2 linked regions of the Homo sapiens genome follow. The protein of the gene in region 2 purifies or fractionates together with the protein of the main gene of each other region. This does not show direct contact. Each region holds a gene or a part of one and is shown on either strand. Other genes may lie near its edges.

Region 1 (7,364 bases), about 140 Mb from region 2:
GATACAGAACCTAGAACCTGTCTATCACCACAGGAAGCTCTATTGGACAGCACTGTTCTAGGTGCAATGGTTTTCACTCTGTTGCATAAGCACATTAGGCTTATCCTTTTGACCTTTGTTTCCTTTGTCTGGAAAACACTTCCCAGGCTGCATCCCTGACAGTGAGGGCTTGGGTAAAAACAACTTCTCCAAGACGCCTCTCCTGTCTACTCCCTGTCTCACACTAACCTCCACTTGACCCTGCTAAAGTTCCTTCAAAACAATCATTTCTGTGTGAAATCATATGAATTTATACTTTATTCCTGATCTTCCTCACTAGGTGCCTATAATTTTGAGAGAAGGTATTATACCTGCCTTCTTTATCACTGTATCCCCAGCACCTGGACCATTCCTGGAACACAGCTGACATTCAGTAAATATCTATGCATCAATTAATAACAAACTAAATTCTCATATAATCACATAACTGTTCATTTTCAATTATTGTCCAATTTCAATTCTGATGCCAAACAGCTCTGAAGGAACAAAAATGCAGTCCTAGGCAGACCCTCAGTGCAAATACAACAGCAAATCAAGCCAAAGAGCACGCTTGATCATTACTAGTCATTGCCACAAGAGGGACCAGTACCTTTTTATTATCCACAACTTTATGGACATAGATGGTGGCTTGAGTGTATTCACGCAGGTCCCTCTGCTGCTGACACAATAAGCCTTCTCTGCATTCTGGACAGAGTTCTTTGGGGGAAAAAAAAAAAGGGAAAACAGAAGTGGCTGAGGAATCATTGTTAAAGAATCAAAGATCTAAAAACATATGTCAAAGTTACTAGTGAATATTCATTAAACTCTTAGTAACATTTTCTTTTTTTGAGACAAGGTTTTGCTGTGTCACCCAGGCTGGGGTACAGTGGTATGAACATAGCTCACTGTAGCCTCAAGCTTCTGGGCTCAAGCCATGCTCCTGACTCAGCCTCTCAGCGAGTAGCTCAAGACTACAGATATGTGCTACATTTTTATTATTTTGTAGAGAGAAGGTCTTGTTATGTTGCTCAGGCTGGTCTGAAACTCCTGGCCTTAAGCAATCCTTCCACCCTAGTCTCTCAAAGTATTAGGATTATAGGTATGAGCTAGTGTGCTGGCCCAAACTCTTAATAATATTTTCTATTAACCACTATATTCTATTACATGCAAATGATAAGGAAATCCATTTACTGTCCATAAATAAACGTACAAATAATGGGATGATTATAATGAGAGTTTCCACCTAGGGAGTTGGGACCGCCGCATGATCTTTAACTTTAAGCAGACAACACTGACACACCCTTTCTTCTTAAAATGTCAGCTCTTAACTATAGAAACCGAAAGCAATATGAAAACTTACTGGGCTCAGAAATATACTGTGTTTCTGAAGGGTTTACATCTCCCACTTCAATTCTCGTGATTTTAATTACATGATCCACAACAAAGAGCTTTTGTATCATTTGCCACTCACTGGGCCATATGAGAGCTATACTGTGCAAAAAAAAAACACAACATGCCTTAAGACACATGGAAATTAAGAGAATTAACATAATCCATTAGTCTGCTAAACCAAAACCATTAACACTAACATTTAATCCAAAGGAATTAGAGAGAAAAGATACGTATCATCAACAAAGAATAGTTTTTCATACAAAGGAATGTTACCACAGCAGCGAAACTAAATGGACTGAAATTACATGAATCAACATGGTTAGATCTCAAAAACATAATTGAGTAAAATAAGTTAGTTGCAGAAGTATAAATACAGTATGGTGCCATTTATATAAAAAGTTTTAAATATGCAAGACATTATGTGCGTGCATTTTTTTTTTTTACAGAATACTTTCTGAGACAGATAAACTCTAAATTCAGTACAGTGGTTAGTGTGAGAGGAAGGGTGGGAGAAAGAGAAGTAGCAACAGAAGGATAAGCACTGTGGGGCCTTTAATCATATTTGAACCATTTAACTTTTAAACTGAATGGTAACACACATTTGCTTACTGGTGTATTTTCCTGGAAGTCTGACATTTGCAATAACAACGACAGGAAGAAAGGGAGGGAGGAAAGAGAAGAGAGATGCACAGCGAGAGTGAGAGAGCAACAGGGAAGGCGGGATGCAGAGAGGGAGGGAGAGAAAGAGGAGGGAGAAAATGTAGAGAATATATAAACTTTGAACTCCCTTAAATGATGTTAAAGTACTGAAATATGAATAATAAAACTCTAGCTTAACCCCAAGGGCATTTTTATTTATGTGTTCCAATTTCCTTTTCCTGATTTTCTGACAATGTTGGAAGCATTCTACCTTCTCGTATATCACGATTTTTGGTAAAATCGGGAGAAATTCACAGATGAACACCTCTGGAAGTACTTGAAGCATGGAATAAAATTTGGGTTCTAAGACCCTAGAATTCCAGATGACCAGTGCAGTGGCTTTGCTCTGCCACCCTGCTAGCCTCCTCCTTTAATTGTCTGAAGCCTGGCCATGGCAGAACAAAACCTATAACCAAGACCATGTTGATTCTGTGATTCTGGAAAAGAGGTCTCAGCACTGGTCACCAGCAGCGGGGGAAGAGAAAGGGTGGCTGTGTTGTCTTCAAGAGGGACAAGGAAAGAGCAAAAAGACAAATAGCCTCGGGCAGCCTCTTGTCTTTCCTGGAGAAGCAGTCTTCTTCTCTTTTAAAAGGGGAAAAAAAAACCCCACAATTCAGCAAAGGACTAAATTCTTAAAACAGACTATGTCAGATGAGAAATTTCCTAAACATATTTTATTAATCATCAAAAAGAGAAAAGAAGAAAAAAAAATCACATGAAGAGAAGGAACTCACAGTTTAGAATCTTCTTTGGTCATGGAAGCAAATGTAAACATGAGGCCCCCGTGGGGACACAAAAGAGCACTGTTCCCAACTGATGACACAGGGCTGCATCTTGTAGGCTTTCTACTCAAATGAGACAAGGAGGAGAAATATACCTAATTACTGCATGACGAAAGAGAAGATTTTAAAATAATTATTTCAAAATCAGAGATATATTTAAGAAAATATTAGTAATTCAATGTGTTTCTTAGGCTTATTCATTTAATTAATAGAAAAGAAAGCTTTCAGTGTATGCTGGTGAAAGTAACCATGAAGGAAGGGTACAACAAACAGAATCCACGATATCTTAAAAAATACCAGAGTCAACCAAATCAGTAACAATAAAGGAAATAAAACATATTTTGTTTCTACCTAACAAATTTCCGCCACTCTTCTACAAAGAACTGAGACACGATGTAGAGGACATCCGTATCCTAGAACACAAAAATCACAAAACAGTATCCGTCAATTCACCGCCTGCTTAACACAAATTCCTTATAATATACTTTGGTTGTCCTTATTCAAGTTTTATAAATAAAATGAAAACACAGTCCTCTACCAAAAAATAGCAGGCTGGAGTAAATCCCCTGGTTAGATAACTAAACAAATGAGAATATGAGAAGTTCTGGGTTGTTCTGAAATAGCTCACTGGGAATTTGGCAAGGGCTTTAAAAAGAAAAGATGCATTCTTTCTTTTGTGGGAATCATTATACCTCTGGCCAGTTACTGAGACACGGTCTGTTTTTATCCTGGAACAAATTTGGGAGAGAAGTCTTTTGCTCGTTTGCAATCATCTTATGTAAGGCTTCATTTTCTTCCCCTTCTCTTTCTAAAATCTGAAAGAGAATGAAGCAATCAACTGTCTCCTGCTGACAGCACATGACCTGCCTCCTCCCTACACCCCCGTCAGAAGTACAGTGTTAATTCCCCTGGGAAGTCAACCCAGGGAGGTGGCATGCCATTTCCCCAGATGTCAGTAGCGTTCAGTACCTTGCACTGTGAACAGCACTCTTTGTAACTTGGAAACTCAGGAGCCTTTGGAAAGTACTGCTGCAGTTTGCTCCAAGCCTCTTTAGAAACAAGCCTTCTTTCATTTTCAGATATGCATAACTCACCTGAGTTTAAAAAAATATATTTGGAAAAAAAAAAAACAGCTGAAAAAAAGTCATTATCTATTTCCTATTTCTTAAACTTAAGAAAAATCCACAGGTACGCTTTTCTTGCTTTGCTAAAGTTTGGTATTTCTAGCTCTCTTTTCTTGTTTTCAAAAACTTCTGAATTTCCGATTTCATTTTAATTCTAAAGGAGGTAGCCATTAACCTCAATTTTACGTCCTTAATCTAGGTCTGTGATTGAAAAAAAAATCATGAGATAAAAACAAACGTACAAAGCTAAAACCGTGCATTTTCTTTCTCCTTGCAAGGAAGGAAGTAGTCAAAAATGGGATTCCAGGAGTCCTGGGACCTCTGTGCCATGGCAAGCGCTGCTTAACAAAATTACATCTACTCCCACACTCAAAGGTTATCATTTCCTGCAGACTTTATTGCCTCCCATTTGACTAATCTTGAAATCACACTGCATTAAAATAATATTTTGTAAGCTGTGTCCAGCCATCACAAGACCACTGCCTTAAGTTATCAATTCAAAGTTATCAATTCAAACAGAAGATAAAGCAATCTACTGCTCAATCTGAAAACCATCTCCAGTCAAGCACCAACTTCTTTGCTATTTGCAATTTATTTTGAAGATCCCCTTCAATCTTCAAAAATCCCAGAAGATATAAAAAAATAATACTAGTCACCGCCACCCTGCCAGGACCTTTCTCCTCTGGCTCTACTTGTGGTTATACTTACTGTTGTTTCAGCTGTTCCCAAGCAGTAAGTTAGTGAACTTCACTTATCTACCCATATCGGTCATTACCCAGAAAACTATCTTTAAATTTCTAAAGTCATATGTTTGTTTCTGCACCCATTGGCAAGGTACCTACAGATTTATTAAGAGTAATAAAGCCATGAGCTTTCTAAATACATACTACACTTTCCATAATAAATGAATTTAGAAAGATGAATATAACCAGGCAGAGTACAGCTAGTGAGTAATAAAGCTGGGATACGAAACCAGGTCTATAGGCCAGGCACAGAGGCTTGCTCCTGTAATCCCCAGCACTTTCGGAGGCTGAAGCAGGTGGATCACTTGTCAGGAGTTTGAGACCAGCCTGGCCAACATGATGAAACCCTGCGTCTACTAAAAATACCAACATCAGCCAGGTATGGTGGTGCTTGCCTGTAGTCCCAGCTACTCCAGAGGCTGAGGCAAGAGGACTCCTTGAGCCTAGGAGGCAGAGGTGGCAGTGAGCCAAGATAACCACCATTGCACTCTGGCCTGGGCAACAGAGAGAGACGCCATCTCAAAAAAACAAAACAAAACAACACAAAACAAAACAAACAAAACAAAACTAGGTCTGAGGCTGGGCTTGGTGGTTCACACTTGTAAGCCCAGCACTTTGGGAGGCTGAGGGGAGCAGATCACGAGGTCAGGAGTTTGAAACCAGCCTGGCCAACATGGCGAAACCCCGTCTCTACTCAAAATACAAAAATTAGCCAGGTGTGTGGCAGGCACCTGTAATCTCAGCTACTCAGGAGGCTGAGGCAGAAGAATCGTTTGAATGCAAGAGGCAGAGGTTGCAGTGAGCCAAGATTGTGCCATTCCACTCCAGCCTGGGCGAGGAGCAAGACTCTGTCTCAAAAAACAAAAACAAACAAACAAACAAACAAACAAACCCAGGTCTATAGCTCATTCGAACCCCATAATATATTTTAAAATTTATTTATTTATTTAATAGAAAACAGGCCGGGGGCAGTGGCTCACGCCTGTAATCCCAGCACTTTAGGAGGCTGAGGTGAGTGGATCACAAGGTCAGGAGTTCAAGACCAGCTTGACCAAAATGGTGAAACCCTGTCTCTACTAAAAATACAAAACAAATTGGCCGGGAGTGGTGGTGTGCACCTGTAATTGCAGCTACATGGGAGGCTGAGGCAGGAGAATCGCTTGAACCCGGGAGGCAGAGGTTGCAGTGAGCCAAGATCGCACCATTGTAATCCAGCCTGGGTGACAGAGCAAGACTCCGTCTCAAAAAAAAAAAAAAAAAAGAAAGAAAAGAAAAGAAAAGAAAAGAAAACAGAGTCTCATTCTGTCCCCTGGGCTGGAGTACAGTGGCACGATCATAGCTCACTGCAGCCTCGACCTCCTGGGCTCAAGCGATCCTCCTGCCTTAGCCTCCTGAGTAGTCTGGCTAACAGGCATGAGCCACCATGCCCGCCTAATATTTTATTTTGTAGAGAGGGAGTCTCTCGAACTTCTGGTTTTAAGCAACCGTCCTACCTCAGCCTCCAGAAATGCTGGGATTATAAGCATGAGCCACTATGCCTGGTCCCTATAATTTATAATACCTCAGAATGCAACTTAACTTCTACCCCTCACCTCTTCTGGATCTTTGAATAATCCCCAAAAGATTATTTTGCTTTAACAGACTTGTTACCAGAGAAATGGGGTCAGAATGTAAACATGTATTTCCTTCTGGGTGGGCTGTTAATTTAAATTTCCCGTGAGTCTATGAAAACTTATTCTAACGTGCCCATCCTCAGACACAATTAGGGAATTTATTTTTAAAAATGAAAGAAAAAGGTTAATTGGATTATCAAACCTTAACTTAGTAAGTCCTTATGTGAAATACAACGTAACCATAAAAAAGATTAAGGTAGATTTCCATGACCTGATTTGGAAAGAACTCCACGGCAACTACAATATTTAAATGGTTTCCTTTTTATGCTTTAAAAAAAAAAAAAGAGAGCTTCTTTGTGTGTGGTATAACCCCATGTGGTTATGAGGAAACAATAATGGGAATGCACACACAAACTTTACTATTAAATGAGCAGAGGAGACCACAGACACTGTGGGTGCACGGCTTCATTCTGATGTGGGGGTACTTTTAGGTAGTGACTGGCTTTTAAGTGGGATGAGTGTTTTTCATATGACAAGGAAAGAACAACCCAAATTCATTTCTGAGATCAGAATAATATTAAATAGTCATTTTACTGTAGTCTAGTTGGTAATAAAAATATATAGTCCTTCACTCTACTTGTTAGCTGAGTTTCTAAATATAATTTCCTATTATTCTAATAATTACTACCATAGTAGTTGTTAATATATCATTAATATTAACTATGAATATTAATACAATTAATTAAATTAATGTAATGAATGATAATGAAGTAAATATACTTGAATATTGTCTATGACCTCAAAATAGTTAAATAAATTTGGGTTGCTCTTTTCACTGGGACACATAAATTGTTAGAAATTAAACTTGTATCCTGCAATGAAACATGTTATTTCTTAAATTTTAAGAGAAAGCCAATCAACTAAATCCATTCTATGAGCAATACCTCCCAAAACAAGATCAAAGCAGTCAAGAGAGATTCAATTCAGTAAACA
Region 2 (7,000 bases):
CTGGTCCACAGGATAAGCCCAAGACTCAGGGGTCTCTCCTAGCTGAGTCCTGCAGCCTGACTGCATGAATGACCCATCACTCCCAAAGGGATGTTTGGGGACCAGATCATGACCATCAACTGGACAACCATACAGCGCTTGCTCATCCAGAACCACAGCCCCCACACTGTCCCTCTTACTGGTGAGGAAAGTGAGGTCAGAGAGGAAAGCTACTTGGCAAAGAAGGCTCAGCTCATAAGTGGCAGCTGATTCCAAACCCTGCTCTTCTCCCTGCCTTGCAAACACTGCCCCATCCTCCCGGGGGTGATCTCATCAGAGAAGGACTAGACCGAGGGAACATGTGACCATCACATCAGGGGCTGAGAGTAGGGGCTCTGCCTGGGGCCACATCACCCCTGGGCCATTCACTACCTGTGTGCCCTTGGGCAAGTCACTGAACCTCTCTAAGCCTTATCTGTGAAACAGGCACATTTCTCGAAGTTATTAAAATTATCAGCACAAATAGATAAATGTATCAGAGTTGTTCTGTCCGAAGCCAAAGAAATGAATTTTTTGTAACTTGCTTCAAGTGTAAATTGCAATATATGCTTGGAGGCCATAAAAAATAAATACATATTTATATTACTATACAAGATATATATGTACCAGCACATAGAACCATAATAAGAACAAATTGTAGAGCCAGGTGCAATGGTGTGCACCTGTAGTCCCAGCTACTGGGGAGGCTAAGGCGGGAGAATTGCTTGAGCCCAGGAATTTGAGGCTGCAGTGAGCTATTATTGCAACACCGTTGCACTCCAGCCTAGGCAACAGAGCAAGACCCCAACTCTAAAACAATAACAGTAATAAATACATGTTAAAAAATAAAAAATAATAAATTATAAAGTATATAACATAGCACCTGGAACATAGAAGGTGCCTGATAAATGTTCATTACTGTCGTTGTTACTGTCGTTATCTAAACTGCTACCCTTACAGGCCTGGCCTTTGTGTGCCACACACAAATGCACATACACCCTCTGCAAAGCCCACCCACCCCAAAGTTTTAGCTCACGGCCTTTGCCATCGCAACCTCCCTGACTACTGACACTTGTCCTTTGCAAGAGTCACCCCTATGTTCACACATCTGCCTCCTCTACCATCTCAGAGCTCCCTGGGGACGGGAATGTGCCTTCCTGATCTTTCTTGGTGTCTCCCCTTGGTTTGAAAGACAAGCAGGGATGTCTATAGGGAAGGGAAGACGGGGCCCAGAGCCAGGGGCCGGGGCCAGCGCTGAGGCCAGGTGCTGGTACCGGAGGAAGCGGTTGAGGTCCCCGTGCCGCATATACTCAAAGACCATGAGCAGGGGGCGGCCCTCGGTGCAGACGCCGAAGAAGCGCACGATGTGCTGGTGCTGCAGCATGGTGAGCAGCTCAGCCTCACGCTGGAAGTCCTGCCGAGCACTCTCGGACGCCTCCTTCAGTGCCTGGATGGAAGCGGCAGGGACAGGACTGAGTTGGGGGCCGAGCCCTCACTGCTGTTCACCCAGGGCAGCCCGCCCACCCCGGTATCCAGCCATGTCAGCCCTCTGCATCTCCCCCCACTCTGTCCTGATGTGATGGAGCTCCTGGGGGTGGGACCCAGGCCAGCAGTACCCCCCGGGGCAGGGTCTCACCTTGACAGCCACCAGCATCTTGTCCTGCTCAGGCAGGAGGTTGTGGCACTCAGCAAGGAAGACCTTCCCAAAGGCGCCCTCCCCCAGCTCCCACTTGAGCACGATGTCCCGGCGCTTGATGTGGTGAACACCTGAGGGGGCTTGCAGGGTCAGACGGTAGCCCCAGTCTTGGGAGGGCTGGGGTTGTAGCGGGGACTGTCTTGGCAGGGCTGTGTGCTGCACAAGGCTGCCCAGACGAGGGACTGCATGGGGGCTAAAATTCAACCTGCACCCCTTCAGCAAGCCCCATGTCATAGTGTGGGGCTGCACCTGCCCCGAGAGGACATGGTTTGGGCTAGCTGTGACTCTGGGCAGGGGATGCAGCTAAGAGCCAGGCTGGACTCAGCCTGAGAAGAATATGACAGGGCCTATGGCTGGAATAGGGCTGGGGAGGGGTGGGAGAAAGGGAGGGATCGTTCAGGCCTAGGGGCTTCTACACACACACACACACACACACACACACACACACACTCGTCCCTGCCCTTGACCCAGCATAGCCCCTCACAGGCATCACTGAAGTATTGTGGGTTCTCGATGATGTGGCCTTGGAGCCCAGAGCCTTTGCCCTCGGTGGGGGACAGGGAGCTGCCACCCAATGTCATGAAATGCAGGGACATGGCCAGCCCATCCTCTGGAGCCAGCACAGCCGGGCCTAGAGAGGAGACACAGCCGCATGGAGGGGTTTGCCCACACCTTGGCCCTGCCCACCCTTGCCTGCAGGATGCCTGGTCACCCCCACCTTGTAACTTGCAGGGGAGAGACTGAGAAGCTAGGGAGCGAGACAGCAGGCAGGGGGAAGGGGGCACCACCGCCTCTCCCTGTGCTGGCTCCTGTCCCACCCCTGGCCCCATGGGCACCAAAGAACTCCCCCTCCACCCCCACAGAGCCCAGACCTCCCAGACCCACTTAATGCTTGACTACAATCCAGCCACCAATTAGCAGCTGCCGCCTCTGAAACTACCCCAGCACCAGCCCGACACACGCTCCCACACACACTCACACTCACAAGCCTCACAGCCAGGCCTTCATTTATACCCCAAACACACTCACACGCCCTGGAACTCCCATGTGCACAGCCCCCCAGAGACAGAGTCAGGAAGAGCCAGTAGGAAACAAAGCCAGGAGAACAGACAGACAGACAGCCCTCTGCAGCCCCGACTCACGGTTGATCCCAAACTTGTTTCTCCGTCCACATTTGTTGAGCACAAGGAGCAGCGTAGAAAGGAAGAGGCAGGCAAAGACGGCCAGGCCCACAGCCACCGAGACCTGGTGGGGGACAGGGGTAGTTAGATCCAGGGGCTCCTCCTGTACTCTCAGAGCCTCCTGTAGTAAGCCATTTTTTCATCCTGCATGGGAGCCCGGAGCCAGGTCTCCAGACCTGCCTCATCCTCCCCTGGGGACCCCTGCAGTGGCTGTGCGGGTGGCCGTCAGAGCTCAGGCCAGATGGTAGTGATCTCCCTGCTCTGACCAGAAATGACATGCAGATGAGCCTCTACCCAGCCTCCCGGTCCCAAAGTCTGCACAAGCTTCTACTTCCTATCTCACCCCAAAAGGTGTTTCGTCCTTCTTCTCCACCGGGTCTCCAGATGTGCTGTTAGTGTCTGTAGGGACACAGGGCAGGAGGGGTGAGCCTTGACACACACTGTAGCCTCCAGTAACCCCCCAACCCTGGCCCCAGCTGGTCTCTCAGGGATCAGTTCAGCTGTACCCTCTGCCCCAGCCTCAGCTCCAGAGACCAGGCAGAACCTGCCCTCCACCTTGGGCTACTCACCCACCGGCGAGAAGGAGACTGCAGCAGGAGGGAGGAGAGAAAGCAGTCAGAGGGAGGAGAGAAAGCAGTCAGAGGGAGGAGGAAAGCAGTGAGTCCCCTGCCTACTCTGGGACTCATTCCTTCATGGGACGAGGGGGGATGGAGGTGGGCTGCTGGGCCTCAAGGAAGAAGATGCATGTGACCCTTTTCCAGCTGGGCCAGGATGCCCTGCTGCATGGCTGTCTCCTCAGCCAGCCGACAAGGACGGAATAGCTCAGGAGTTCAGGAGTCCTGGCTTGGGGAGAGGGTAAGGAGGCCAGAACAGCGGGACACCAGGACTCCAGACTCCTTTCTGTCCCGAACCAGGCACTCCAATTTCTGGGGTCAGGGCTATAGCAGGAAGTTGGCTGTAACCCAGGAGGAGCCCAGGAGTGGGGGCAGGGTTCAGGATGGCCCTCGCACCAGGGATGGGGTCCTCGGGGTTGAACTCGAAAGGGTTGTCCATGAAGGCAGCCATGATGGAGGCGGAGGCCTGGCCGAAGGGGTTGGCAGCCAGCAGCGTGTAGTTGCCGTTGTTGACGTGGGTGGGCTGGTTGAGGCGCAGACACCCGTGCCGCACGGTCTCATTGGCTGCCGGCTCCAGGAACTCAGTGAAGATGAAGCTGGTCTCATTGAGCACGGAGCCATTGAAGAGCCAGCGCAGAGACGGTGCCGGCTGCCCATCCACAGAGAAGGGGATGCACCAGTGGTGCATCTCCACCGCCGTGTGCAGCTGCACACTGGCCGGGACTGTGGGCCAGAAAGAGCAACAGCAGGAGGTCAGGGCGCAGCTGGAGGGAGCCTGGCACACACCCGACAAGTCCACGGGCAAAGCGAGTAGAACCCGAAATCAAAGGGCAGGCCTGGGAGAAACAGGTCAGCAGGCCCTGGGAAATTCACCAAGGAGAGATGTTTTGAAGAAAGTTGACAATACATTTTAAATAAATCAGGCAGCAGGCATATAAAATTTAGAGGCTTAAAGAACATAAGTGGTGGGCCATAAATAAGTCACAGCCCCACAGGAGTGGGGTATCAGCTTATGACAATTAAACATGGAGTCTTTGGGATAAGGAATCTAGAAGAAGTCAGTGTAACCAAGCTGAAGAAGATGGGTCAGGGGCCCTAACAATCAAACCAGCCAAAAATATATACAGTTAAATTTTTGGGGAAAAGCCAGGCACAGTGACTTGCTCCTGTAATCCCAGCTACTCAGGGGGCTGAGGTGGGAGGATCGCTTGAGGCCAGGAGTTCAAGGCTGCAGTGAGTTATGATCCCAAAGCATTCCAGCCTGGGCAACAGGCTGAGACCCCATCTCTTCAAACACACACACACACACACACACACACACACACACACACACACACTCTTTTTGAAAAAAGATATGCGTTTGAAATAGACCCAATCTGGGCCAGGCGCGGTGGCTCACGCCTGTAATTCCAATACTTTGGGAGGCCGAGGCGGGCGGATCACGAGGTCAGGAGATCGAGACCATCCTGGCTAACACGGTGAAACCCCGTCTCCACTAAAAAAATACAAAAAATTAGCTGGGCGTGGTGGAGGGCGCCTGTAGTCCCAGATACTCAGGAGGCTGAAGCAGGAGAATGACGTGAACCTGGGAGGCGGAGCTTGAAGTGAGCCGAGAGCGCGCCACTGCACTCCAGCCTGGGTGACAGAGCGAGACTCCATCTCAAAAAAAAAAAAAAGAAATAGACCCAATCTGGTAAAAGTAAAAGCCCCTCAATGATAGAAAAAAAGTGTATGTATGCATAAATATATGTATATATATATATAATATAGCATTCATACATAGGAATACTATTTAGCAATGAATTGCATGAGCTACATATAGCAACTCCCATTAACATGAATGAATCTTATAAATATAATGTTGAATGAAAGAAACCAGATACAAAATAATACACGCAGTATGATTCCATTTATATAATGTACAAGAACAGGCAAAACTAAATGATACCGATAGGAAAGCATATTTGAGAAAAATTATTTTTAAAAGCAAGGAAATGGTTATCCTGACAAAAGTCAACATGAGATGGGAGAGTGGGATGGGATTGCGAACAGGGAGAGGTGTTGGGTGGTGGGGGATCTTCCGTGATGCTGGTAAGAGTAATTATTGTTTAAAATATATATATTTTTTGCACATTTCTATGTATATTTCACAATAAAAGAAGAAAACTGATGTAAAGTAGAATATTTAAGATAATTTGTTGGCTGATCTAGAGAAATTAGGCAGCGAGCGTAAAGAGGAACTCAGGAGGAGAATTTCCTCTTTTGAAACTAGGATGCGGGGAGAAGGACCCGATGAGGGACGGGCATGAAAAAATACTTCGGAGCAGTGGGAACAGCCGGGCATCTGGCGTTGAGGGCCTCAGGTAGCAAGGCTCGGGCAGGGGGCCAGAAAGAAATCCATCTCCATCCCTCTGGCCTTGACAAGACCCCAGGACTTCCCCCAAAGGATCAGGTTTTCATGGGAATCTGGAAACAGCTGGGAGGGAGCAGCTGTGGAGACACACATCCCACCCTTTCTTCCAGCCCCCCACCCTACATCCTCTTTTGAGGGAAGAAGAGATGAGTAGGGGGTGGGTGCCGGAGCTGCCACTGAGACTCACAGGAGACGTTGACCTGAACAGAGACCTCTGCCCGGCCCACATCGTTCTCTGCCCAGCACGTCACGTTCTTCCTGTTGAGGTCACTGGTGACATTGGCCAGGGTCAGCCCCAGGGATGGCAGACCCCCAGATTTCTAGATCAGGAAAGAGAGGGGGGAATAAGAAGGAGCTTTAGCCAGCTTGGGGCTGGGGCTGAAGTCTTTGGAGAGCCCCTCTGGCTCCAGATGGAAAGGAGAGGAGGGCTGGGAGGGAAGAGAAGGGAGAGAGGGGTGGGAGAGAATGTAGCAGATAATGGCCTTCCTCCTTTAGGTTTGTTCGTTGACTATCTCCTGGATCACATTTTTTTTTTATTTTATGTTTTATTTTTGTAGCGACGGGGTCTTACTGTCCTGCCCAGGCTGGTCTTGAACAGGGCCTCAAGCAATCCTCTCACCTCGGCCTCCCAAAGTATTGGGATTACAGGCGTGAGCCACTGCGCCCAGCCTGGATCACGTATTTAATTATCTGAAAAATCTAAAATCTAACCAGTAGCCTCAAAATAGGCACAAAATATCCCAAACTGAAACTAAAACCAGCCATCTGAGCAGCTAAACAGATGTCACGCATCCCAAGTACCAAATTTGTACACAGCTCGTTGGAGACCCCACTAGGACCTCACTGCCTATTCATTCCTGTTTTACACACAGTTCTAACAAACTGAGTCTCAGCCCAAGGAAGATCAGAAACAAAGAGATGGTGCAAATAGCACAGCAGCAGTTAGAAACAACAGCAGCGGCATCGCCTCCTGCAGCAGATGAGGACCATGGGTGAGGTTAGACAGGCAAAGTGACTTGATTCTGAATCATCGTCAGGATTGAATCAGATCAAGTTTCTCTTCCTAGGAAACCGTGGA

The links.
Region 1: the proteins of NTRK1 (region 2) and USP48 purify together in Homo sapiens (affinity purification with mass spectrometry; 2 studies listed by BioGRID). This does not show direct contact.

Annotation. Positions count from the first base shown.
Region 1 is NC_000001.11:21,702,884-21,710,247, forward strand, and holds part of USP48 (ubiquitin carboxyl-terminal hydrolase 48), read right to left. Parts: intron 3,986-7,364; coding exon 3,861-3,985; intron 3,707-3,860; coding exon 3,584-3,706; intron 3,305-3,583; coding exon 3,243-3,304; intron 2,955-3,242; coding exon 2,844-2,954; intron 1,510-2,843; coding exon 1,379-1,509; intron 736-1,378; coding exon 629-735; intron 1-628.
Region 2 is NC_000001.11:156,870,865-156,877,864, reverse strand, and holds part of NTRK1 (high affinity nerve growth factor receptor isoform 2 precursor), read right to left. Parts: intron 6,243-7,000; coding exon 6,110-6,242; intron 4,233-6,109; coding exon 3,906-4,232; intron 3,483-3,905; coding exon 3,465-3,482; intron 3,295-3,464; coding exon 3,239-3,294; intron 2,960-3,238; coding exon 2,857-2,959; intron 2,346-2,856; coding exon 2,199-2,345; intron 1,786-2,198; coding exon 1,655-1,785; intron 1,466-1,654; coding exon 1,293-1,465; intron 1-1,292. UniProt on the Homo sapiens protein: Receptor tyrosine kinase involved in the development and the maturation of the central and peripheral nervous systems through regulation of proliferation, differentiation and survival of sympathetic and nervous neurons.